3 separate regions of the Homo sapiens genome follow, and regions 2 and 3 are each linked to region 1. The links come from fine-mapping of genetic effects on gene expression. A gene starts in region 1. Each other region holds a variant in brackets. All regions are shown on one strand. Distances are from middle to middle.

Region 1 (10,197 bases):
GACACCTGCCTCTGAGCCAGCCACATCAGCCGAATCAACACTGGTGACCAGTGGGGTGACAGGCGTCACAGCCCGACCGTCCTCACATCAGAGACCCCACTCTTTCCTATGGTTGGATCTACTCCAACATATAGGTGTTGTATGATTCATCTCATCTGCTATTAATATGAAATTAGGTGACTGCCAGTCTTTTCATGAGTTGCTGCCTTGAGCTCACAGATGTGTCTATAGGACACCTTCCTGGAAGTAGAAATTCTGGTTGAAGGTGAGCATGTGTTTATGTTGATAGATGGTTCACTGTTCTCCACAGAGCTTTCGCCTACCCACTGTCCACGAGTCCTGGACTTGGTGTCACGGGTTCCAAGCTGCTGAGACTGGCCTCTCTGTTGGGTGAGCTGAGGATCTCTGCGTCCGTTCGTGCTTCCCCTTCTGTCTCCCCAACCCCTGCGCTCACCCCGTAACCCTCCTGCTGACACACCATGGGAGCACAGTCAACATTTGCTGGGTGAATAAGTCGAGGAGTGCCGAGCACACACCCCACAGGCCGATCTGGGAGGGCAGGGATGCCTTGCAGGTATTATTTACTTATTTTGACCAGTTGAGGGGGCAGGGAGTGTCACATTTATATGTTTTTTTTTTTTTTGAGATGGAGTCCCACTGTGTCACCCAGGCTGGAGTGCCGTGGCGAAATCTCAGCTCACTGCAAACTCCGCCTCCCAGGTTTAAGCGATTCTCCTGCCTCAGCCTCCTGAGTAGCTGGAATTATAAGTGCCCACCACCACGCCCAGATAATTTTTGTATTTGAGAGAGGGTTTCACCATGTTGGCCAGGATGGTCTCGAATTCCTGACCTTAGGTGATCCACCCACCTTGGCCTCCCAAAGTGCTGTGATTACAGGTGTGAGCCACTGCACCCAGTGTTTTGTTGTTGTTGTTGTTTGTTTGCTTTTTTGAGATGGAGTCTCACTCTGTCGCCCAGGCTGGAGTGCAGTGGCACAATCTTGGCTCACTGCGACCTCCGCCTCCCAGGTTCAAGTAATTCTCCTGCCTCAGCCTCCCAAGTAGCTGGGGTTACAGGCGCCTGCCACCACACCTGGCTAATTTTTGTATTTTTAGTAGAGACGGGGTTTCACCATGCTGGCCAGGCTGATCTTGAAGTCTGGACCTCAAGCAATCCGCCCACCTCTGCCTCCCAAACTGCTGGGATTACAGGTGTGAGCCACCAAGCCCGGCCAAGTGTCACATTTATGTTGAAAGGTGGAGGGGCAGCCAAGAAGGCAGGTGCTGGGGAGGCAGGCAGAAAGGGCTTGAGGGGACAGAGTGGATGGGTGGGAGAAATTTAGCGGGGCAGGACGGGAAATGAGGGGCTCAGTTCCCGGCGAAGCCCTTCTGTTTGCTGATGTGGCAGCTGCTGAGGGGGTGGGAAGAGGTCGGGGCCTGGACATGCTGAGGCCGAGCTGCCTGGGGGTTGTCCAGGGAGAGGGGTCTGGTCGCTCCCCAGCCTGGCAGGCATGGGACTAAAGATAAGGCAGGTCGAGAACAGTTTTGGGGTTTCAGGGATGGCGCAGCCATGGAGGATATGGTGAGCCTCATCCACAGAGAATGCGGAGAGGCTGGCCAAGGATGGAGCCCAGCGCCAGCTCTGGAGGGGCAGGTAGGGAAGGGCCTGAGCAGGGGATCCCCCAGGTTCCCAAATCTGCTGCTGCGGCTTCTGCTGCTGCCTCCCCACTCGGCCCTCAGCCTTCCACACTGCCACCAGCTCTGTCCTTTCAAAACACAAGTGCAATCAAATCGTTCGCCCCACCAATAAAGAAAAACCAGCAAAAATTCCCTGTCCTCAAGAGGCTTTTTTTTTTTTTTTTTTTTTTTTTTTGAGACGGAGTCTCGCTCTGTCACCCAGGCTGGAGTGCAGTGGTGTGATCTTGACTCACTGCAAGCTCCGCCTCCTGGGTTCACGCCATTCTCCTGCCTCAGCCTCCCAAGTAGCTGGGACTACAAGCGCCCTCCACCATGCCCGGCTAATTTTTCTGTATTTTTAGTAGAGTTTCACCGTGTTAGCCAGGATGGTCTCGATCTCCTGACCTCATGATCCGCCCGCCTTGGCTTCCCAGAGTGCTGGGATTACAGGCGTGAGCCACCGTGCCCAGCCCTCACAAGGTTTTTAATCTGGGACAGGTGGAGGACAGCCCCAGCGAGGGGCTGCGTTTCAGGCCCTGAGATGACAGGACAGTTGCTGCCCCTGTGAGCCACAGTCCTGCCTCCCGCCAGCTTGTGGGGAGGGTGTATCCTCTGCCCTCAGGCATCAGCCTGGCTGCTGCTTCTGCACCTGCCCAGCCCACCAGAGAGGAGGCCCCGTCTGTGATTCCCAGGGTCCCTGGTGCTTGTTGCATGTGAGTCCATTCTTAGTTGGAGAAGCTGCTTCTGGGGAGCGACGGGGCTGCCCCAGCACCGCTTATGATGGACACAGGTGAAGGGGAGACACAAGTTTCCAAATGTGCGAGGGCTGGGCCATAGGAGGGGGCGGTGGCCTTGGGGAATGCTTGTGAGAAGCAAAAGAAGCTAGGGTGGCAACTGGCTGGACAAACAGCATCTTGGGGTTTTTTCCTTTTTTTTTTTGAGATGGGGTTGCGCTCTATCTCCCAGGCTGGAGTGCAGTGGCGTGATCTCGGCTCACTGCAACCTCCGCCTCCCGGGTTCAAGCAACTCTCCTGCCTCAGCTTCCCGAGTAGCTGGGATTACAGGCACGCGTCACCATGCCTGGCTAATTTTTTGTATATTTAGTAGAGACGGGGTTTCACCATGTTGTGCAGGTTGGTCTCAAACTCCTGACGCCAAGTGATCCACCCGCCTGGGCCTCCCAGAGTGCTGGGATTTACAGGCATGAGCCACCACGCCCGGCCTTTGGGGGGTTTTGTTTGAGTGTTTTATGATGGCAGAGGTAAGTTTGACTCTGATAGCAAGGAATCCATAGACAGGGAAGGATGGAGTTTGGCGGCGGGCACTGACAGTGAATGATGGCCTGAGATGAGGAGTGGGCAGGGGGGCAGAGCCCTGTGGTAATGGAGGGAGGGGTGGTGTGAGAGGTGTAAGATGGGGGCTTGGTGCTCCCATCTGATAGCTTCTATTTGCTCTCTGAGGAGCAGCCAATTATCTCAGAGACACTGGAAGTGGGGTGAGAGGTTCGAGGAGAGTGCAGACTGCAAGACAGCTGACCAGAAATCAGCAGGCTGGGCGGTAGGGAGGGGCATCCATCCATCTGAGACACTGAGCCACTGTGGATGGTTGTTCCCAAGGGCCTGGTGGAAGCATGACAGTGGAGAGAGTGCGACGCAGGGTCCCCAGAGTCTCAGAGAGAGTGGAGAGTGCGGTGCAGGGTCCCTAGAGTCTCTCCGAAGAGAGCCAGCCCTGGGCTCAAGCACTAGCCCAGACTTGCCCCGGGCCCCTGCCAGCCTGCACACAAGCTCAGTGGTGTGGTAGTGTGGTGCTGAGGACCTTTTTGGGTACAAGTGACAGAAACCAACTTGAGCCAGCTGGGGCAAAAAGGAGGATTTCTGGCAGGGCACAGTTTCTCACACCTGTAATCCCAACACTTTTTGAGGCAGATGCAGGAGGATCATTTGAGGACAGGAGTTCAAGACAAGCCTAGGTAACTTATCAAGACCCTGTCTCTACAAAAAAATTAAATTTTAAAAAGATGATTTCTCAACCTGTGAAAACCAACAGTGGGAGAGGAGAGGCGTAGCGTGGCCTGTGCCTGAGGGCAGGGAGGGGACCCTGGTGGGGCCTCTCAGTTTGATTCCATTCATTCTCTTGGGCTGGCTCCTGCCCATGGATGGAGACTGGATGCCAGTCATTTGGCCAGTTCTTGCAGCAGCCAAACTCATTTAAAAACAGACCTTCAGGGCCAGGCGCGGTGGCTCACACCTGTAATGCCAGCACTTTGGGAGGCCGAGATGGGCGGATCACGAGGTCAGGAGATCGAGACCATCCTGGCTAACACAGTGAAACCCTGTCGCTACTAAAAATACAAAAAATTAGCTGGGCGTGGTGGCAGGTGCTTGTAGTCCCAGCTACTCGGGAGGCTGAGGCAGGAGAATGATGTGAACCTGGGAGGCGGAGTTTGCAGTGAGCCAAGATCACGCCACTGTACTCCAGCCTGGGCGACAGAGCGAGACTCTGTCTCAAAACAAACAAACAAAAACAAACAAAAAACAAAAAACAGACCTTCGGGCTGGGGGCGGTGGCTCATGCCTGTAATCCCAGCACTTTGGGACGCCATGGTGGGTGGATGGCCTGAGGTCAGGAGTTCAAGACCAGCCTGGCCAACATGGTGAAACCCCCTCTCTACTAAAATACAAAAATTAGCCGGGCATGGTGGTGCACACCTGTAATCCCAGCTACGCGGGAAGCTGAGGCGGGAGAATTGCTTGAACCCAGGAGACGGACGTTCCAGTGAGCCAAGATGGTGTCACTGCACTTCAGCCTGGGTGACGGATTGAGACTCTGCCTCAAAAACAAAACAAAACATAACAAAAAACAGACCTTGGCCTGCTGTGCTCAGAGGGGTTTCCCTGCTGCACCAGGCTGGCTCCTGCACCTTCTCTCCCAGCATGTTCTGCTCTGGGCTCATGCTCATCCCTGAGCCACTTCAGGGGTGGCCCTGGCCAGCCCTGCCCTTGAGAGGGGTGGGCACTGTCAGGGATCCTGGGGGATGCAGCTTTCCCAGAGCCCCCTGCTCCGTGGCCTCATGTGCCTCACACGCTTAGAACATTTGCTCTTTACAGGGGGACATGAGCGTGCCGTTTTTAAGCTGTGTTAAATGTCTCACTTGGCCTAGATGGGGGCTCTTCAGCCTGGGACCCCAAGGGCAGGGCCTGAATTCTCTCTCTGTTCCCCATCGCCAGGCTGGCAGCCCCTGAGGTGATGGCCCTGCGCCTCCTCTGACTTCTAGTTTGGGGGGCCCGGTAGGCAGCGCCTAGGCTTCTCCCGCCTTTCTCCCGCTGGACAGAGAGGGGCGGGGGACGAGGAGTCTGGGGACCCGATCCCCAGATTGGGACGGCCCAGGGGTGGGGTTCGGGCTCCTGTGCGGGGAGTCCCAACGGCGAGGGCAGCTGTGGTCCTGGCCCATGCCTCCCGCCGACACCACAGCCGACCCGGGTCAGGGCGTCAGACCCGCCGGAGCCGTAGTCCAGGTGCCCGGCCCGAGGGGCGGTGCTCGGGCCCCAGAGTGGTCAGCGATGGGCGGGGCGCTGCTCTCGGGAGCCGCCCTCCCACCCTCTGGACCAATGGAGATGCGCGGTTGCAGGCCCCGCCCGCTCAGGGCTTGACGACAGCGCGCAGGCGCACGGCGCGCCCGGGCGGGCCGGCTGGCTGGGAAGATGGCGGCGGGAACCTGGGCCGCCGCCGCCGCCGCCGCCGCCGCCGCGGAGCGAACCAGGGGTGTCCGGGGTGCGCGGTCCAGGGCCGGGGCCGGGCCATGAGCGCGCCGTCCTCGAGTCCCCGAGCCGCGGAGCCCGCCCGCGCCCCTCGGGCCGCCCCGCGTCCCTCGCCATGGCGCGGCTCGCGGACTACTTCGTGCTGGTGGCGTTCGGGCCGCACCCGCGCGGTGAGTGCCGAGGCCAAGCGCTGAGGGCCGGGGGCCGAGGGTCGAGTGCTGAGGGCCAGGGGCTGGGTCTGAGGGTCGAGGGCCGGGGGCTGGGGGCCGAGGGCTGGGGGCTGGGTCGGGAGGCCGAGGACTGAGGGCCGGGCGCTGAGGGCCGAGGACCGGGGGCTGGGCGCTGAGGGCCGGGGTCGGGGGAGCCGAGGACTGAGGGCCGGGGCCGGGGGCCGGGCGGGGACTGAAGGCCAGGGCCGACCGGACAGCCCGTGGGGAGAATGGGCGTCCGCTGGGGGCGGCGTGGCCGCGCGGGCCTGGTGGCGGCAGGGAGAGAAGGCTGGGCCCGGCCTGCCCGGCCTCCTTGGGGTGGGACGGGCTCTCTCCTTGGCCAGCTGCGGGCGGCTGTGGCTCTAGTGGCTCCAGGGGCGCGGACCCGCGGCTCGCCAGCCCGCCTCTGACCTTGGTGCTCCGTCTGAAGCCCCCGGCGGTCTTGGCGGGGTGCAAAGAGGGGGTGGAGTTCGGGTTTGGTGCATGGAGAAGCGGTGTTTGATTTGAAACTGGGAGGATTTGAGGAGGAAGCGTCGAGAGTAGAGAGAAGAGCATTCCTGGCGACTCGCCTGACGGTCCAGGCCCTGCACGCCAAGCCCTGGGTGGGGTATCAGCGTGGCGGTCGGTGCCCATGCCCAGGAGGTCTGTGTGTGGGGTCAGCGCCCGTGTCTGAGAGCTCTTCAGCCCAGGAGGTAGGAGAAAACGGAGCCTGACGATGACATCAGCAACAGCCTGGAGACAGCAGCGTTGGCGAGCGTGCTTGGTGTGCCAGGCCCCGCACAGCCCTTTGTGTACATGATCTCACCTCTTCCTCCCAGCAGCCCACCGGGGTTGCCCTGGTGTTGCCCCCATCTGTAGAGAAGTTAGGCGCGGATAAGCTGACTGCCTGGCCTGAGCCGGCTCAGAGAGGCTGGGACTGGCACTCAGGCTGTCAGATCCCAGCTGCAGACTGGCAGTGTGTGGGGATGGCTGTGTGGTCAGGCAGGGGCTGGATCTTGAGCCTGGAGGTGGGATTGAGCTTGCCTTCCCAGTTACCCTGTTTTTTGTCAGTCCAGTTGTCACTGTCCCCACCAAGGACCTGGAGTTCTCTCTTTTTTGTGTTTCTTCTGCTGGACACCCCCCTACACTTCCTGAAGCCTCTTTAGCATCTTCTTCGTCTCCAGCCCCTCCTCAGTGCCCTCTTACTCAGCACACACTCCTCTCTGCTCATGTCTATCCAAGTGTGTGTCTTATGGCACCGTCAGTCATGAGCATCTGTCTTTTTCTTTAGAGAGGGAGTTCTCGCTTGCTAGGACCACATAGTCCTCATCCCCACTGTGCAGGTTGGCTGTCAATGTTGTCTTGACCCACAGAGGGAGCTGTCTGCACCGAGGCACCTATGAGGGGCATGGAGGAGGCCTTACCACCTGGGGCAGAGGGTGCCTGAGGATCCAGGGAAGCAAGGCTGGCTGAGGGCTGTCTTGGCGTGAGGGGCCTTGGGCTGAGGGCTGGGGCGGGGGCTACAGGAACAGCTGATAATGACCCTGATGATCCTGAGGGCAGTGTGGAGAGGGTTTGGGTTGGTAGAGACTGCAGGCAAAGGCCAGGTGGGAGGCGTGGTGGCCGTGGGGTGAGGAGTTGAAGGTAGGCAGAGAGAAGAGGCAGAGTGGGCTCCACAACAAGCTGGCTGTGACGTGTGTGCTCACTGCTGGAGCCACACGTAGTGCAGGCACCTGTTTGTGTGTGTCCTTTGCGCAGGACAGGGTAGAAGGCTGGAGCCCAAGGTGCCCCCCCTTCCCCTAAGTGACCGGAAGGAGTGATAAGTGGTCCACTGCAGTAGGGTTGGAGGACCGTGGAGCCCTGTACCCACTACCTTCTGGGGTTGAGCTGGTCAGCTGCTTGCTGGCCTTGCAGCCCCAGGCACCCCTTAGAAGGACTTGTTCATTCTTGAGGGGAACAAGGCTATAGACTGGGACCCTGGTCATGGGCTGAGGGCAGAGCCAGGTACCAGGGCCGGTGGGAGCTGGGGGAAGAAGCAGAGGAGTGTGGCGTGGGGGTCACTTGTCTCTGCTTTGCCCCTTGATAGCCTTGTGACTTCGAGCCAGTTGTTTGGCTCTCTGTGCCTCAGTTTCCTCATCTGGGGATGGAGTGAGTCATGCTAACCTCCCAGGCTGCCGTGAGGATGCAGCGAATGCACAGGTGTGAAGCAGTAGCACACAGGAGGCCCTGGAAATGATGAGTTTCTTTCATTAGTGACTGAGCAGCAGGTGTGTGAACTCTCTAGGCACAGACACAACAGGCACTTCTGAGTGGGTAGAGGATCCTCTCTGTTCTGTCAGGCTAGGACTTCAGGGCGGGATGCAGGGTCTCTTGGGTTGGGGATTAGGATTGGCGGATAGCTTGTCTTGGCCTGGATCTGGACATCCTGTCTGGAGCTGCTGGGTGCAGCACCAGGGTGCTGAGGGTGCATGAGTCCTGCCTGAGGCAGCATCCCAGTTGCTAGTGGTTACCAGCTGGAAACCTCTCAGGAAAGGTGGGGAGGGGCCCTGAGAAGGTAAATGCCTGTGCTGGCCGTGACCCTTTCACCTCAGAGAGTGATGGTGGCCAGCGCTGGCCCATCTGCAGGCCCCTCACCTGGTGAGTCAGGGATCACCTTCTGTGCTCTGGGGCAGGCATCAGGACTAGACAGACTGCCTCTGCCCGGCTCTTGGCCTGATCACAGCGTGGCCAGTGCTGAGGTGTCTTTGAGAACAGGAGACACATTTGATCTGGCCCTGACCTGGCCATCGGCCTTCCATCTCCAGCAGCTGAGTGTGCATCTGCCTGGGAGGAGGGGCTGGACCCCTTGGATCTGAGAAAAAGACCTTTCACCCTATGGCCTCGCCTCTCCTCCTGACTGTGATGTGCTGGCTGCATTCTTGAGCCCCATCTACTGTCCCCACCCACGTTCCTGCCCTCCCTCTGGAGCGGGTTGGGGCTGTTTGGGATGGCCTCAACTGCCTCCCAGCCTCCACCCTGGGAGCCGGAAGGGGTCCAAGGCCTTGGGTCAGAACTGCTCAGGTCTGATGGGCAGGGGAGGTTGGGGGGGATGGCTGTGGAAGCTGCAGGGGCCCTGCGCATGGCCTGCTGCTGCGGCCGAGGGAGCCATGTGCACGTTGGGGTTGGGTGGGTGGCGTAGCAGGAAGGTGCTGTCCTTCCTTCTTTTCTCTTTTCCTATAGCTGGGTTCCCCACAAGCAGCAGAGCCGGCCAGGGCTGGTCTTCGTGCACTGTGGGGAGTGTGGTGGGGAAACAGGAGAGGCTGCCATCCTTCTTTGCCTCCCCACAGCACACGCTGGCCTGGGCCAGCCCTCCAGGCGTCAGAGCCTGGCACTGATGATGGGGTGCTGCCAGCAGATGACAGAACGCGAGGTCTGTGTTCGCCTGCCCGCCCGCCCGCCTTTCAGGCCTGCCGTCTGCGTGGGGCTGGCCGCAGGGACATTGGTGCAGGAGGGAGTGCTCTTTGAGGGGCTTTCAGGACAGAAGCCCCAGTGTTGTCCTTAGGTGGCCCCCTCAGCCCCATGTTCAGAGGTGGAGGTGGCAAGGAAACCTTGGTGCCCAGTGCCACCCAGCACACCGTTTGGATTCGTCCTGTTGCCAAGGGGAGGAGTGGGGAGGGCACCCTCCCTCCTGTGTATTCTGAGGTAAAGGCAGCACTCTGATGGGCAAGGAGCTCAGCTGCTGGAGGTCACTCCTATGGCAATAGAGCTTCAGTGGGTGGGGGACCCTGGGAAGATGTGGCAAAACCCCCCACATCCCCCTGGAGGCCAAGATGTGGCCTGGCCCCGGACAGCACAGAGCTGAGGTGCAGGCTGGGACCTCAGAAGGGTGAGGAGGAGAGCTGCTCACAGCTGAGGGCTGCAGGGCCCTCCATGGCCTGCCTTTCCAGGGGCCAGCTGTGTTCTGTCATTCCCTGGGGCTCCGGAAGGTGCCCTGTACTTCCGACTGAGGAACCTGTTTGCTTGTTGGGTGTGGGGAGGATGGTTGTGTAGCCGACTGTACGTGTTCTACAAGCCCTAATTAGCCTGTGGTCCGTCCCAGCCAAGCCAACAGGTGCACTAGCAGTCACTGGGGTGTGGTGGAGGGAGGTCGGTCCTAGGGTCCCTGTAGGCCCCAGGCTGGGGCAGAGTTTCCCAGGGGAGGGGGTGCTCTGTGGGCTGAGACCTGAAGGGCCAGTCTGGGGCTGTCATGGCACAGAGGAGCTCAGGGAGAGGTGCCTGCTTGGCCTGGCCCACTTGGGCCATTGGGCCAGCCCAAGGAGAGTGGAGCTCAGGGCTGGCTCTTTGGAGGGTAGAGCCCTGCAGAGGACTTAAGGCTGAGTGAGAGTTGATGCTTCACAAGACTAGCGGGGGGTGGAGAGGGTCAAGGTAGATGGTGACCTGCCACTCTGCCCATCCTCCTGGGGAAGGCTGCCTTCCCTTCCTGGCCTTGGGGAGGCTGCAGTGCAGAGACTGCTGTCCCTGTTCATAAACCCCTCTTCCTTCCTCCACCTGCTGCCTCGTGGCAAGAACTGGGTGAGCCCTGGGTGCCAGCCAGGG
Region 2 (10,197 bases), 130 kb after region 1:
CAGTTACAGATTTGTATGTACGTGTACGAGAGAGAGTCTCACTGTCATCCAGGCTGGAGTGCAGTAGCATGATCTCGGTTCACTGCAACCCCTGCCTCAGCCTCCTGAGTAGCTGCGATTACAGGCGCTTGCCACCATGCCCGGCTAATTTTTGTATTTTTAGTACAGACAGGGTTTAACCATGTTGGCCAGCCTGGTCTCAAACTCCGGACCTCAGGTGATCCACCCACCTCAGCCTCCCAAAGTGCTGGGATTACAGGTGTGAGGCGCCGTGCCCACCTACAAATGTTTGTGTTCCTTTTCCACTCCCAGTGCTTCACTTGACTAGCCAAAAAATAAAAATAAAAAAAGCACTCCAATCCAAAACTTGTTGAGCATCTACATGATGCTCAAAGGACATGCTCACTGGAGCATTTCAGATTCCTTATTGGGGAAGCTCAACTGGTAACTCTGAGAAAATTTGAAATCCAAAACATCTCTAGTCCCAGGCATTTTATTTTATTTATTATTTATTTATTTTGAGACAAAGTCTCGCTCCGTCGCCCAGGCTGGAGTGCAGTGGCATGATCTTGGCTCACTACAATCTCCACCTTCTGGGTTCAAGTGATTCTCCTGCCTCAGCCTCCTGAGTAGCTGGAATTACAGCCACGTGCCACCATGCCCGGCTAATTTTTGTATTTTTAGTAGAGACAGGGTTTCACCATGTTGGCCACGGTGGTCTCAAACTCCGGACCCCAGGTGATCCGCCCACCTCGGCCTCCAAAAGTGCTGAGATTACAGGCATGAGCCACCGCGCCCGGCCTCCCAGTCAGCTTTTCTAAATAAAATTGTATTGGAACATAAACAAGAACACACAAATGCCTGATACATAATCAGTTATCGTTACAATTCCAAAATGTATTCTTTTAATTTTCTTTGTTCTTCCTCTATTCTTCTAGGGAATCTATTAAAATTTTTTAAAAATATTTTTAAAAGTTAGCCTTTCCCTTAACAAAAAAAAAAAAAAAGGGAGAGGCTTTTGAGTCACACTACCTGGGGTACAAATCTTGCCTCTATCATCTACTTGCTGTTTATTTCCATTTCCTCATCTGTGAAATGGAAAACAACACAGGCGTACTTTGTCTAACGTGCTTCCCTTCATTGTGCTTCGCAGGTAATGTGCTTTCTACAAATTAAAGGCTGGTAGCAACCTTGCGTCAAGCACGTCGAGGGGTGCCATTTTTCCAACAGCATGTGCTTACTTCGTGTCTCTGTGTTGCATTCTGGTAATTCTCACAATATTTCAAACTCTTTCATTATTATTTTATCTGTTATGGTGACCTGTTATCGGTGATGTTTGATGTTACTATTTTAATTGTTTTGGGAAACTACAAACCGTGCCCATATAGGATAGCAAACTTAATAAACGCTGCGTAAGTTCTGACCGGCCATTTCCCTGAGTCTCTCCCCCTCTCCTCAGGGCTCCCTACTCCCTGAGACACAACAGTAATAACGTAATAACGTTAGGTCAATTAATCCTGTAGGAAAGGAAGAGTCACATGTCTCTCATTTCGATCAAAAGCTAGAAATGCTTAAGCTTAGTGAAGAAGGCATGTCAAAAGCCGACAGGCCAAAAGCTAGCCCTCCTGCACCAGTTTGCCAAGTTGTGAATGCCAAAGAAAGGTTCTTGAGGGAAATTAAAACTGCTACTCCAGTGAAGACATAAATAATAATAAAGCAAAGCAGCTTTATTGCTGACACGGAGAAGGCTGCTTTCTGTTTGGAGGCAGGTCTTACTCTGTTGCCCAGGCTGGAATGTAGTGGCACCATCACAGCTCACTGCAGCTCTGACGTCCCAGATTCAAGCCATCCTCCTACCTCAGCCTCCCCAGTAGCTGGGACTATAGGCATGCACCACCACATTCAGCTAAACTTTTATTTTGTAGCGATGAGGTTTCACTGTATTACTCAGGTTGGTCTCAAACTCCCGAGCTCAAGCGATCCTCCCCACTCAGCCTCCCAAAGTGCTGGGATTAGAGGTGTGCGCAACCGTGCCTAGCCTGCAGAAAGTTACGTTGTTGTTGTTTTGTGTGTTTTTTTTTTTTGTTTTTGTTTTTGTTTTGAGACAGAGTCTCGCTCTGTCACCAGGCTGGAGTGCAGTGGCGTGATCTTGGCTCACTGCAACTTCCACCTCCTTGGTTCAAGCAATTCTTGTGCTTCAGCCTCCCGAGTAGCTGGGACTACAGGCACGCACCACCATACCCAGCAAATTTTTGTATTTTTAGTAGAGATGGGGTTTCACCATGTTGGCCAGGATGGTCTCCTCCTGACCTCGTGATCCACCTGCCTCAGCCTCACAAAGTGCTGGGATTACAGGGGTCAGACACCGCACCCAATGCCTGCAGAAAGTTTTAATGGTTTGGAGAGAAGACGAAACCAGACTTAAATAGTCTACAGTAAGGCCCTCACTCTTTTCAGTTCTACAAAGGATGACAGAGATGACGAAGCTGCAGAAGAAAAACTGGAAGCTAGCGGAGGTTGTTTCATGAGGTTTAAGAAGCCACCTCCATAACATACTAAAGTGCAAGGTGAAACAGCAAATGCCGGCCGGGCGCGATGGCTCTTGCCTGTAATCCCAGCACTTTGGGAGGCCGAGGCGGAAGGATCACTTGAGGTCAGGAGTTCAAGACCAGCCTGGCCAACATGGTGAAACCCCGTCTCTACTAAAAAATACAAAAATTAGCTGGGTGTGGCCGGGTGCGGTGGCTCACGCCTGTAATCCCAGCACTTTGGGAGGCCGAGGCAGGCGGATCATGAGGTCAGGAGATGGAGACCATCCTGGCTAACACGATGAAACCCCGTCTCTACTAAAAAATACAAAAAAATTAGCTGGGCATGGTGGTGTGCACCTGTAGTCCCAGCTGCTGGGGAGGCTGAGGCAGGAGAATGGCATGAACCTGGGAGGCAGAGCTTGCAGTGAGCCGAGATCGCGCCACTGCACTCCAGACTGGGTGACAGAGCAAGACTCCGTTTCAAAAAAAAAAATTAGCTGGGTATGGCGGCGGCTACCTGTAATCCCAGCTACTCAAGAGGCTGAGGCAGGAGAATCACTTGAACACGGGAACCAGAGGTTGCGGTGAGCTGAGATGGCACCACTGCACTCCAGCCTGGGTGACAGAGGGAGACTCCATTTCAAAACAAAAAACAAAAAACAAAAACAAAACAGCAAATGCTGATATAGAAGTTGTCGCTAGATCTGGAAGATCCAGCTAGGACAATTGATGAAGGAGGCTATGGCAAACAACAGATTTTTCAATACAGATGAAACAGTCTTCTATTGGAAGAAGGTGCCATCTAGGATTTTCATAGCTAGACAGGGTAAGTCAACGCCTGGCTTCAAAGCTTGAGTGCACAGGCTGACTCGCTAATGCAGCTGGTGACTTTTAAATTGAATGCTCATTTATCATTCTGAAAATCCTAGGACCCTTAAGAATTATGCTAAATCAGGCCGAGCGCGGTGGCTCACTCCTGTAATCCCAGCACTTTGGGAGGCCAAGGCGGGCGGATCACTTGAGGTCAGGAGTTTGAGACCAGCCTGGCCAACATGGTGAAACACCATCTCTACTAAAAATACAAAATTAGCTGGGCGCAATGGCACATGCCTGTAATCCCAGCCACTAGGGAGGCTGAGGCAGGAGAATCACTTGAACCTGGGAGGCTTAGGTTGCGGTGAGCCAAGATTGCGCCATTGCACTCCAGCCTGGGCAACAAGAGTGAAACTCTGTCTCAAAAAAAAAAAAAAAAAAAAAAAAAAAAAAACACTGTTGAGACCTACTGCTCAGAAAAAAAAGATTCCTTTCAAAATATTACTGCTCATTGACCATGCATCTAGTCACCCAAGAGCTCTGATTAAGATGTACAAGGAGACTAATGTTGTCATGCCTGCTAACATACTCCATACTGCAGCCCATGGATCAAGGAGTAATTTTTTTTTTTTTTTTGAGACGGAGTCTTGCTCTGTCGCCCAGGCTGGAGTGCAGTGGGGCAATCTCGGCTCACTGCAAGTTGCGCCTCCTGGGTTCATGCCATTCTCTTGCCTCAGCCTCCCAAGTAGCTGAGACTACAGGCGCCCACCACCACACCCGGCTAATTTTTTGAATTTTTAGTAGAGACGGGGTTTCACCGTGTTAGCCAGGATGGTCTCGATCTCCTGACCTCGTGATCTGCCTGTCTCGGCCTCCCAAAGTGCTGGGATTACAGGCGTGAGCCACCGCGCCCAGCCTAATTTTCTTATTATTTCAGAAATACATTTCAGGCCGGTCGCAGTGGTTCATGCCTGTAATCCCAGCAACTTTGGGAGGCCAAGGCAGGCAGATCACCTGAAGTCAGGAGTTCGAGACCAGCCTGGCCAACATGGTGAAATCCCATCTTTATAGAAAATGCAAAAATTAGCCAGGCATGGTGGTGGGCGCCTGTAATCCCCGCTACTCAGGAGGCTGAGGCAGGAGAATCGCTTGAACTCGGGAGGCAGAGGTTGCAGTGAGCCAAGATTGCACCACTGCACTCCAGCCAGGGCAACAAGAGGGAAACTTCGTCTCAAAAAATAAGTAACAGAACTAGAAGTAGAGCCTGAAGATGTGACTGAATTGCTGCAATCTCAGGATAAAACAGATAAGGAGCTGCTTTTAATGAATGAGCAAATAAAATGGTTTCTTTTTTTTTCTTTTTGAGACAGAGTCTTGCTCTGTTGCCTAGGCTGGAGTGCAGTGGCACAATCTTGGCTCAGTGCAACCTCCACCACCTGGGTTCAAGGCATTCTCCTGCCTCAGGCTCCCGAATAGCTGGGATTACAAGCATGCACCACCACGCCTGGCTAATTTTTGTATTTTTAGTAGAGACGGAGTTTCACCATGTTGTTCAGGCTGGTCTCGAACTCCTGACCTCAGGTGATCCACCCGCCTCGGCCTCCCAAACTGATTACAGGCGTGGGCCACCACACCCAGCTGCTTTTTTCTGTTTTTTTTTTTTTTAAGATGGAGTTTCACTCTTGTTGCCCAGAATGGAATGCAATGTTGTGATCTTGGCTCACTGCAACCTCCGC[T/C]TCCCGGGTTCAAGCAATTCTCCTGCCTCAGCTGGGATTACAGGCGCATGCCACCACGCCTGGCTAATTTTTTGTATTTTTAGTAAAGACGGGGTTTCACCATGTTGGCCAGGCTGGTCTCGAATTCCTGACCTCAGGTGATCCACCTGCCTCAGCCTCCCAAACTGCTGGGATTACAGGCATGAGCCACTATGCCTGGCCACATTCTGCTTTTGTGGGTGTGCTTTTATTTATTTTTGGCAGAGATGGGGCCTCACTATGTTGCTCAGGCTGGTCTAGAACTCCTGGCCTCAAGTGATCCTCCCGCCTCAGCCTCCCAAAGTGCTGGGATTATAGGCACGAGTCACCACGTCCAGCCCGTTTTTTTTTTTTTTTTTTTTTGAGACAGGGTCTCACGCTGTCGCCCAGGCTGGAGTGCAATGGAGTGATCACAGCTCACTGCAGCCTTGACCTCCCCAGGCTCAGGTGATCCTGCCACCTCAGTGTCCGAGCAGCTGGGACTATAGGCGCACACCACCATGCCCAACTTTTTTTTTTTTTTTTTTTTTTGAGAGGAAGTCTCACTCTTGTCGCCCAGGCTAGAGTGCAATGGCACAATCTCGGCACACTGCAACCTCCACCTCCCAGGTTCAAGCGATTCTCCTGCCCCAGCCTCCTGAGTAGCTGGGATTACAGGCGCCCACCACCATGCCTGGCTAGTTTTTTTTGTATTTTCAGTAGAGATGGAGTTTCACTATGTTGGCCAAGCTGGTCTCGAACTCCTGACCTCAGGTGATCCGCCCGCCTCAGCATCCCAAAGTGCTGGGATTACAGGCGTGAGCCACTGCGCCCGGCCCTGCTTTTTGTTTTTGTAGAGATAGGGTTTTGTCATGTCCCCAGGCTGCCCTGGCCTTAAGTGATGCTCCCACCTCAGCCTCCCAAAGTGCTGGGATTACAGGCGTGAACCACCGCACCCAGCCCATGTGCTTTTAAATAAATAGCCATCCCCAAGGCTTTATACCTTGCCCCCATGATGACAGTTGTATACCTGCGGCTTGGCCTCTCCTCTGGGTTCCAGACCCTCCTGTAAGATACCTTCTCCCTAGTGACCCTCGGACTTCTCAGACTTCCCCTACTTTCAGCCAAGAGAAAGCCTTGCTTTCTACTTCCAAACTGTAGTAACACCCCCAGCCCTGACACCACCCTAATTCAGCTTCCCTATTTCAATAAACAGTGCTACTATCCACCCATTTGTTCCATCAGAAAGCCTAGAAGGGTTGATGGGGCTGGGAGGATAAAAGCAGCCCAGAAATTACCCTGAGTCCATTCATTCTCTCACACCTCTCTTCTCATCTACCAACAAGTCCCAACAGCTCTACCTCCAAAATATCTCCCTAAACCCACCACCAAGTTCTAAACCATTACAATCACTACACCCAGCTCCCAACACTTCATCTCACCCCCACCTGCTGTCCACGTGCCAATGTCCATATGATCATGGCACTCTCCAACTCAATCTCCAGGCCAGGTTTCTCCTACAACTCAGACTGAAGGTCCAACTCCCTACTAACACCTGCAAGGAACGGCTTAATGAGAAAACCAACTTTCCAGCCCAGGCTCCTGCCTCTCTCTCCCTTACCATAAGCACATCAGTCTTATCTAGGTTCCTGGAGGATATCACACCCAAAATTTCCCACTTCAGGGCCTTTGCATGTGCTGTCCTCTCAGCATGGGAGACTCTGTCCCCCAATTTGTCTCAAAGCTAGCTGCCTCTCACATTCCAAAGATTAACTGAAGTGAGTTAGAAAAGTCAAAGGGGAGAGATATATACACCTATTGTGTACCCACAACATTTTAAAGTAAAAAATAAAAACAAAGGGAAGATAAACCAGAAAAAGGGACATCAAAAAGAGGTGAAGAGCCTCTTTCAGTGAACAGTGAACAGTGTCGGCAACTGCAGGGGCAAGGAGAAGCCAAGAGCAGGGCAGAGAGAGGCCATGAGGGAAGGGTGGATGAAAGAACAAGACACAGGAGAAGGGTCTAGAACAAAATCAGTGGGTACAGTGACAAAGAGGGGGCTGCAGTGAAAGGCAGGGACTAAATGGAAGTGACAGACTTGGGGGAGCTGGTGCTGACAGGTCAGGGAATGAGCAGCAAATTGGGAGGAGTCAGTAACAAGAGAGTGGACAAAGCAGGTAGGGAAGCTGCGAGTACACAGAGTGGCAGGTCGGGGGACAGTACGGTGCATGGGGGAAGGTGACAGGCTGAAGGAAGAGATGATGGGGATGGAAGCAACAGGGCAGTGCGGGGTAAGGTGAGGTTAGATGACTGGTGATATCTCAAGCCGTGATGGGGAGCGCGACAGGAAAAGACGAGTAGTGTTGGAAAGGGTTAGGAAATAATGGAAAGGGGAATCAGTGATTGGACAAGAGGGGTGATGACAGCGGGCACTGAAAGTTCTCCCACTGACAGGCAGGAGAGAAGCAGTGGGGAGACACTGACAGGTGGGGTCACTAACAGCAGGGCAGGGTACTAATGGGTCCCTAACAGATAAGGGATGAAGGAGGTAGCATGAAAGGGGACAGGAACTGACAACAGGGGAGAACTGATGGGGAGGATCTGACAGGCACTAACACAGAGGCCGATAGCAAAGAGCGGAAGGGCCACAACAGGCAGGATGAGGGAGACACTTATGAGGGAAACTTACTGACAGTGGGGCTCACTGACAGAGGCACTGGCACTGATGGGGGGCACTGACAGAGAAGATCAATGACAGGTGGGGACATTGCTGACAGAAGGGGTCACAGAGCGCTTGGACTGACAAGGAAGGGCACTGGCAGGGGAGGGATTATGCGGTCAGTGACTGACGGGTACGGGTGGGGGTGCAGGCACTGATGGGAAGTGGGGACATGACAGAAAGAAAATAATTGACTGGGGGGGCACTGGCTGACGGGGGACAGGGATGCGGGACTCTGACTGGGGGACACTGATGGGGAGCAGAGTGGACTGACGGTGGGGGAGCACTGACCAACAGTGGAGGCACTGACCAGTGCGCGGACTGACAGATGCGGAGGCACTGACCGACAGGAGGAGCATGACTTGCAAGGGGCACTGACTGACGGTGGGGGGCACTGATGGGTGGGGTGGGGACTGATGGGTGAGGTGCAATGACTAGCTAGCAGGGGACACTGACTGGTGCAGGAAGCACTGACTGGTGTAGGGTGGGGGAACAGAAGGAGGGCACTGACTGGGGGGGCACTGACTGACTGGGAGGGAACTGACTGGAGGGGGCCCTGACTTGGGAGGAAACTGACTTGGGGGGCACTTACTGGAGGGGAACTGACTGGAGTGGGCACTGACTGGGGGCACTGATTTGGGGGGCACTGACTGGAGGGGGCACTGACGGGGGAACTGATTGCGGGGGGAACTGACTGGGGGGGCACTGACTGAGGGGAACTGACTGGGGGACACTGAAGGGGGCACTGACTGGGGGGAACTGACTAGGGGATGCACTGACTGGGGAGAACTTACTGGAGGGGCACTGACTGGAGGGGACAGTGACTGACTTGGGGGGGGCACTGACTGGGGGGCACTGACTGACTGGGGGAACTGACTGGAGGGGGAACTGACTGACTTGGGGGGCACTGACTGGGGGGCAACTGACTGGGGGAACTGACTGGAGGGGGCACTGACTGGGTGGGTCACTGACTGGAGGGTTCACTGACTGGGGGGAACTGACTAGAGGATGCACTGACTGGGGGGAACTGACTGGAGGGGGGCACTGACTGGGGGGGAACTGACTGGAGGGGGCACTGACTGGGTGGGTCACTGACTGGAGGGTTCACTGACTGGGGGGAACTGACTAGAGGATGCACTGACTGGGGGGAACTGACTGGAGGGGGGCACTGACTGGGGGGGAACTGACTGGAGGGGGCACTGACTTGGGGGGCACTGACTGGGGGGAAACTGACTGGAGGGGGCACTGACTGGGGGGGGGAACTGACCGGGGGGGGGGAACTGACTGGAGGGGGCACTGACTAGGGGGGCACTGATGGGGGGAACTGACTGGAGGGGGCACTGACTGGAGGGAAACTGACTGGGGGGAAACTGACTGGGGGGGAACTGACTGGAGGGGGCACTGACTGGGGGGAAACTGACTGGAGGGGGCACTGACTGGAGGGGGCACTGACTGGGGGGCACTGACTGGAGGGAAACTGACTGGGGGAAAACTGACTGGGGGGAACTGACTGGAGGGGGCACTGACTGGGGGGAAACTGACTGGAGGGGGCACTGACTGGAGGGGGCACTGACTGGGGGGCACTGACTGGAGGGAAACTGACTGGGGGGAAACTGACTGGGGGGAACTGACTGGAGGGGGCACTGACTGGGGGAACTGACTAGAGGGTGTACTGACTGGGGGGGGGAACTGACTGGAGGGGGCACTGACTGGGGGGGGAACTGACTGGAGGGGGCACTGACTGGGGGAAACTGACTGGAGGAGGCACTGACTGGGGGGGAACTGACTGGAGGGGGCACTGACTGGGGGAACTGACTGGAGGGGGCACTGACTTGGGGGGGAACTGACTGGAGGGGGCACTGACTGGGGGGAATTGACTGGAGGGGGCACTGACTGGGGGGCACTGACTGGGGGGAAACTGACTGGGGGGGCACTGACTGGGGGGAACTGACTGGAGGGGGCACTGACTGGGGGAAACTGACTGGAGGAGGCACTGACTGGGGGAAACTGACTGGAGGAGGCACTGACTGGGGGAAACTGACTGGAGGAGGCACTGACTGGGGGGAAACTGACTAGAGGGGGCACTGACTGGGGGGGAACTGACTAGAGGGGGCACTGACTGGGGGGGAACTGACTAGAGGGGGCACTGACTGGGGGGGAACTGACTAGAGGGGGCACTGACTGGGGGGGAACTGACTAGAGGGGGCACTGACTGGGGGGGGAACTGACTGGAGGGGGCACTGACTGGGGGAAACTGACTGGAGGAGGCACTGACTGGGGGAAACTGACTGGAGGAGGCACTGACTGGGGGGGAACTGACTGGAGGGGGCACTGACTAGGGGGAATTGACTGGAGGGGGCACTGACTGGGGGGCACTGACTGGGGGGAAACTGACTGGGGG
Region 3 (5,895 bases), 28 kb after region 1:
GTGCTGGGATTACAGGTGTGAGCCACTGCTGCCGGCGTCAGGTCATAGCTTCTTAGTAGCTGTTCTCTGCCAGGCCTTGTGACATCTTGCTTTGCACATGGCAGCCTAATTTGGCCAACGACTCAAGGAGGGCTCTGTCTAGATTTCTAGAGCCCCTTTGCTGTGGTGCTCCCTCCCCTCTGTGGGCTGCCCTGCAGACCCAGCTGCACTAGCGCCCCTGGACGTCCCGTCTCTGCCTCCTCGGCTCAGCAAGCTCCCGTGTGTTGCTCTGGCCCTGCCTCCCTGCACTGTGGCTGGGCAGAAAACAGGTGACTGTGGGGCCCATCTTATGTGGTCCCATGTCTTAGGCTCCTGTCTCTCAAGCTGCACTGCTTGTCTGACATCTGGAAACAACGGCTTCCCCTTCTTGTCCAGTTTCATCATTTGCATATGGAGGGAGGGCTGTTCAGACTAATTATCTGTCATGGCTGGAAGTTGACAGTTGGCCTCGTGTTTCTCTTTTGAAGTCAGCCGTCAGTTTTATTGTTGCTCTTTCAAAGAGAGCATGTCTTTTTTTCTTCTGGCAGGTTTTGGGACTTTTCTCTTTGTTTTTCAGCAGTTTTTCTGTCCCATTTTGGGGTGTGTGTGTGTGTGTGTGTGTGTGTGTGTGTTTGTGTGTTTTGAGACAGAATCTCACTTTGCCGCCCAGGCTGGAGGGCAGTGGTGTGATCTCGGCTCACTGCAACTTCCGCCCCCTGAGTTTAAGTGATTCTCCTGCCTCAGCTTCCTGAGTAGTTGGGATTACTGGTGCCTGCCACTGCGTCCGGCTAATTTTTGTATTTTTAGTAGAGTTGGGGTTTCACCATCTTGGCCAGGCTGGTCTTGAACTCCTGACCTCGTGATCCACCCGCCTCGGCCACCCAAAGTGCTGGGATTACAGGCGTGAGCCACCGCGCCTGGCCCTAAAATCACTCTCTTGAATTTACTGTATGTTCTAACTCCTGTTTCATTTCAGGGTCTATTTTAATGTTTTTCTCCATTTTTCTGCTGTTCTTTTATTGTAAGCTGGACATTGTGGACCCTGCAGTGTTGAAGATCAGTATTGTGTGGTCTTTTTTTTTTTTGAGAAGCAGTTTTGCTCTTGTTGCCCATGCTGGTGTGCAGTGGCGCGTTCTCGGCTCACCGCAACCTCCGCCTCCCAGGTTCAAGCGATTCTCCTACAGGCGTGCGCCACCATGCTGGGCTAACTTTTTGTATTTTTAGTAGAGATGCGGTTTCTCCATGTTTGTCAGGCTGGTCTCAAACTCCTGACCTCAGGTGATCGGCCTCCCAAAGTGCTGGGATTACAGGCGTGAGCCACCACGCCTGGCCGGGGTGTGTGTTTTTAACTTACCCTGTTGGGGTCTGTAGTGCTTCTTGATTATGTTGTTTGATGCCTCTGGTTAGTTTGGGAAATTTTTCAACTGTTGTCTCCGAATATTCATTTTGCATATTCCTTCCCTCCCTCTTGCCACCTCCCCCTGTGGCCAGTCACACACGCGTTAGGCCTTTCCGTTGTGTCTCTTTCCTGTGTTTTCCTTTTGTCTTTTCGTGCTCTAGTCTGGATATTTCCTTTTGAATAAACTTGCCATTAATTCTTCCCCCAGGAGCTGCAGAGGCTGGAGACAGAGTTGGGCCAACCCGCTGAGCGCTGGAAGGACACCTGGGACCGGGTGAAGGCTGCACAGCGCCTCGAGGGCCGGCCAGACGGCCGTGTGAGTGAGGGCCAGTGTGAGCGTCCACGGTGGGCGTGTTGCTGGGAGAAAGTGGAGTCTGTCCAGCCCTGACCCAAGTCCCAACCTCCTGTTCCCAGGGCACCCCTAGCTCCCTCCTTGTGTCCACCGCACCCCACCACCGTCGCTCGCTGGGTGTGTACCTGCAGGAGGGGCCCGTGGGCTCCACCCTGAGCCTCAGCCTGGACAGCGACCAGAGTAGTGGCTCAACCACATCCGGCTCCCGTCAGGCTGCCCGCCGCAGCACCAGCACCCTGTACAGCCAGTTCCAGACAGCAGAGAGTGAGAACAGGTATGAGGGCACCTCCCACTGCCACATGGACACCTCTGAGCTGGTGTTCTGGGGTCCCAGGCAGTCCTCTGGTGGGAGATTGCGGGTGCTTTTGAGGAGCTTGCTTAAGTATACACCACCACTGGGAGGGGTTTGGGGTGTCGAACTGGTGACCACAGCTGACCACAGCCTGCAGTGGCTGAGGGAGGAGTAGAGAGAGGGCAGTGGTGGGGCCCCCGTGAGTCTGGAGTCTGGCAGGATCCATCCCAGGCAGCTGCTGCCGTGGCTGCTTCTACAGATCTACCTGCCTGGCCATCCCTCTCCTCGTAAGGGCGCCTGCCCTGTGTAGGGGGCTGCTTTCCCAAGACCCTGAGGCTCTGGTGTGGGGATGCTCCCTGGAGTCTGGAGGGTGTGAGGCGCCCTTCACTGTCTCCTTTCTGGGCGTCGTCTTCTTGGGCCTGCAGCCCCCCATCAAAGGCTTCTTTGTGGCCCCCTGGCCAGTGCTCTGGGCTTAGGTCAGTTCTGGGGACAGGGTGCCTGGTCTTACCTCCTGGGCTGGGACAGCAAGGGGGGGACGACTGCTGGGGCCTGGGCTTGGCTGGGCCATGACGGTCAGCCTGGCCCTGGTTCTGCTGGAAATGCAGGTCCTACGAGGGCACTCTGTACAAGAAGGGGGCCTTCATGAAGCCTTGGAAGGCCCGCTGGTTCGTGCTGGACAAGACCAAGCACCAGGTGAGTGATCAGGTGGTGGGGGGGACTCACGGGGGAGGGGGCTCCGCTGACTCTGTGGCCTCCTCCAGCTGCGCTACTACGACCACCGTGTGGACACAGAGTGCAAGGGTGTCATCGACTTGGCGGAGGTGGAGGCTGTGGCACCTGGCACGCCCACTATGGGTGCCCCTAAGACTGTGGACGAGAAGGCCTTCTTTGACGTGAGCCTTGGCCGGGGCTTGGGAGAGGGGAGGGGCTCTGCGGTGTGGGGGCTGCGGAGTCAGTAACCCGCCCTTCCCCAGGTGAAGACAACGCGTCGCGTTTACAACTTCTGTGCCCAGGACGTGCCCTCGGCCCAGCAGTGGGTGGACCGGATCCAGAGCTGCCTGTCGGACGCCTGAGCCTCCCAGCCCTGCCCGGCTGCTCTGCTTCCGGTCGTTACCGACCACTAGGGGTGGGCAGGGCCGCCCCGGCCATGTTTACAGCCCCGGCCCTCGACAGTATTGAGGCCCCGAGCCCCCAGCACTTGTGTGTACAGCCCCCGTCCCCGCCCCGCCCCGCCCGGCCGGCCCTAACTTATTTTGGCGTCACAGCTGAGCACCGTGCCGGGAGGTGGCCAAGGTACAGCCCGCAATGGGCCTGTAAATAGTCCGGCCCCGTCAGCGTGTGCTGGTCCAGCCAGCGGCTGCAGGCGAGTTTCTAGAACCAGAGTCTATATAAAGAGA[GAA/A]CTAACGCCACGCTCCTGTGCCTGCCTTCCCCACTCCCCGGCTGCCTGCTCTCGGCCTACCCAGAGGGTCCCATCTGCCCCTATCCAGGCCCACCTGGCGGGAGGTTGGCATCTTTCTCGTGAGCCTCTCCTGGTGCCTGGGTCCACCCAGCTCGGCCTGCATGTCCCTGGGAGTGACTTTGCTCTGGGGGCGGATCGAGCAGGAGGCTTCACTGGGGACTTGCTTGATTCCCTCCACGCCTCAGGGCTGGTCTAGGGGCCGGCACGGCTGGAGAGGAAGCCCCCATCCCTACCCAGGGGATGCAGAAGCTGACCTCACAGAGGCTTGGGGGTGAAAGGGTGGGTGGTCATTTGACCCCAGAAGGCTGTTGCAGGTCCAGAGGACACTTGAGGTGGACGTCAGTTTCTGGCTAGACCCGAGCTGAAGGGATGGAGGCCGGAGGCGGGGGGGGGGGGGGGACAGTGGGCTCCCAGGGGAATGCAGGTTGACCACATCTGGCTCCTGCCAGGCAACGAGCAGCATCTGGCAGAGTAAGGGGCCAACGCCCATGGGGGATGGACCCTCTCAGTTCTTGGGAATTCTGCCCCAAAAGTCCTTTCCCTGGGGTCTCAGAGGGCCCCCGTCCTTCCCTTCTTGGTGTCACTGTGGCCCCTCACTGCTCTTTTCCTATTCAAACCTGAGTCCCACCAGGCCCAGGGCTTCACCTGCTGAGCTGTTGTGTCCTTGCCTGTGACGAGGCCTGGCCAGGGGTGCAGGAGCAGAAGGTGGGGAGGGTTATAGACGCTGCAAAGGCCAAGAGAACATCTGAGAGTGGCAGCTGGTGACCTGGCCAGAGGGGCTGGTGAGGGGCAGAGAACCTGGCTAGAGGCTGGGTCCCTCAGGTGGTCCTCTCAGGTGGGAGGCGAGCAGCAGGTGTGGGTGAGGGGAAGGTTCTGATGACAGCTGCAGAGGCAGGGCCCAGTGCTGGCAGGTGGGGGGCCAAGACCCTCCCCTGGTGGGACGTTGAAGCCAAGGATGGCCTTGGACCCTGTCAGGCCCAGCATGGTCCCGCCACCTCCCCCACCCCACAGGTGGTGTTGGGACACCTGGGCGAGATGTGAGGGTGGGCTCACTTGAGCCACTGAAACCAGCCAGGTCTTCCCTCAGGCCGGACAGATGGCGCCTGACCGAAGTTCCTGGCACCTGGAAAACCCACAGGTCAGAGTAAGGGGAGAAAGGACCCTGCCCTCCCTGTTCCACGTCTGTGGGGGGAGAGGACAAATGCCAGGCACAGGGTAGGCGGCGAGAACAAGGCACTCAATGTGTAGCTGGGGCAGAGACTCGGCCTCTGGGGAGCTGAGCGGGTTCCCTCCACCCCCAACCGTGGTGGAAAGACAAGCTCGCTGGGGCGGGGTGGGGGTCTGGTCTCCACCTGCCCCTCCCACTCAGCCACTGAGGACAAGGTGGGGCCCAGGCTTCTGGGAGGGGGAGCTGGCACAAAAGGAAGTCCTGGGGTTGATGTGTTTGAGCGTTAGGCGAAGTGGTTCCCCCCATCCCCCAAACGGAAAAATGTCAGTATTTGCTAAGCTGTAGAGACCTGATGCCGTGATGTGGCCTGTTCCGCCTCCACCCATTACACGGGGATAACGCTGGGGGGTGGCGGGCCCACAAAAGAGGTGCTGGAGGAGACTCTCCCACCCCTGGCCGGGCCGGGGCTTTGGGGCCGGAAGGTTCACAGTACGCGGTTTGTCCGAACGTCACGGCTTTTATTGGGAGTTGGGGGTTTGGGGTGCCCTGTCAGGTGATCAGAACATTAAAAATGGACTCAACGTAAAATAATCTTCTGGACCCTTCTAGGACGACATGGCCGTGACCGGTAGTGCTAGAAACCAGTCTTCGAGCCCCTAGTGCCACACCATGTCCCCCCACCTGCATACCTGTGGTCTCCCCCTGCCAGGCACCCTGTGCTGGGCACAGGGACATCCCTGCCAGGCCTAGAGGGCCTTGTGTTTTTAAGGCAGTCAAATCTTGCAGCCTGGTTCAGTGCCAGCTCCAAGGGCTATTGGGTAGCTGCAAGGGTCAATTATGCATTCCTGTGAGTCAGGTTTTTCCAACCCAGGCCCTTGACTCTGCCCTGAGCTTGCAGCTGGATACAAAGTGCAAAAAAGCTTGGCTCCTTCTGTATTCTTTAAAAACAAAACAACAACAAAAAAAAAACTGTAAAAACAGCCTCCATGTCCACGCCCTTCCTGGCCCATCAGGTCCTGGTGGCATCTCAGGGTCCTGCCCCCCCCACCCCCACCCCCACCCCGGCTCCTGCAGGCCGACCTTATTGCTGTGCTCTGGGCTTGGGGGCGGCTGAGGTGCCCCTCTGTCCTCCAGCAGGGCACGAGTGACCTGAGAGGCCCACTCAGGCAGAAGAGACGCAAGCTGGGCCGTCCAACTGGTTTCAACT

The links. PIP is the estimated chance that this variant, and not a neighbour inherited with it, causes the effect.
Region 2: its variant is fine-mapped to the expression of SBF1 in whole blood (TOPMed, PIP 0.99).
Region 3: its variant is fine-mapped to the expression of SBF1 in transverse colon (CEDAR, PIP 0.95). The same link has a PIP of 0.9 or more in CD4 T cells.

The regions. Positions count from the first base shown.
Region 1 is chr22:50,470,193-50,480,389 of GRCh38, reverse strand. It overlaps SBF1 (SET binding factor 1), which reads left to right and starts at 5,355. Exons shown (of 41, transcript NM_002972.4): 1 at 5,355-5,604. The coding sequence starts at 5,550. RefSeq lists enhancers at 4,193-5,102, 6,013-6,922, 6,923-7,834, 9,593-9,652 and silencers at 5,199-5,403, 4,984-5,443, 5,864-5,993.
Region 2 is chr22:50,344,628-50,354,824 of GRCh38, reverse strand. All of the region lies in intron 1 of PPP6R2 (protein phosphatase 6 regulatory subunit 2), which reads right to left. Among named protein-coding and RNA genes, the nearest start is that of PPP6R2, 6.4 kb to the right of the region's middle. The variant T/C (reference allele first, on the strand shown) is at 5,081.
Region 3 is chr22:50,444,381-50,450,275 of GRCh38, reverse strand. PPP6R2 (protein phosphatase 6 regulatory subunit 2) reads right to left here. Exons shown (of 24, transcript NM_001242898.2): 24 at 5,186-5,895. It overlaps SBF1 (SET binding factor 1), which reads left to right. Exons shown (of 41, transcript NM_002972.4): 37 at 1,626-1,733; 38 at 1,832-2,043; 39 at 2,667-2,754; 40 at 2,823-2,954; 41 at 3,036-5,276. The coding sequence ends at 3,134. Among named protein-coding and RNA genes, the nearest start is that of SBF1, 28 kb to the left of the region's middle. RefSeq lists an enhancer at 4,829-5,675. The variant GAA/A (reference allele first, on the strand shown) is at 3,459.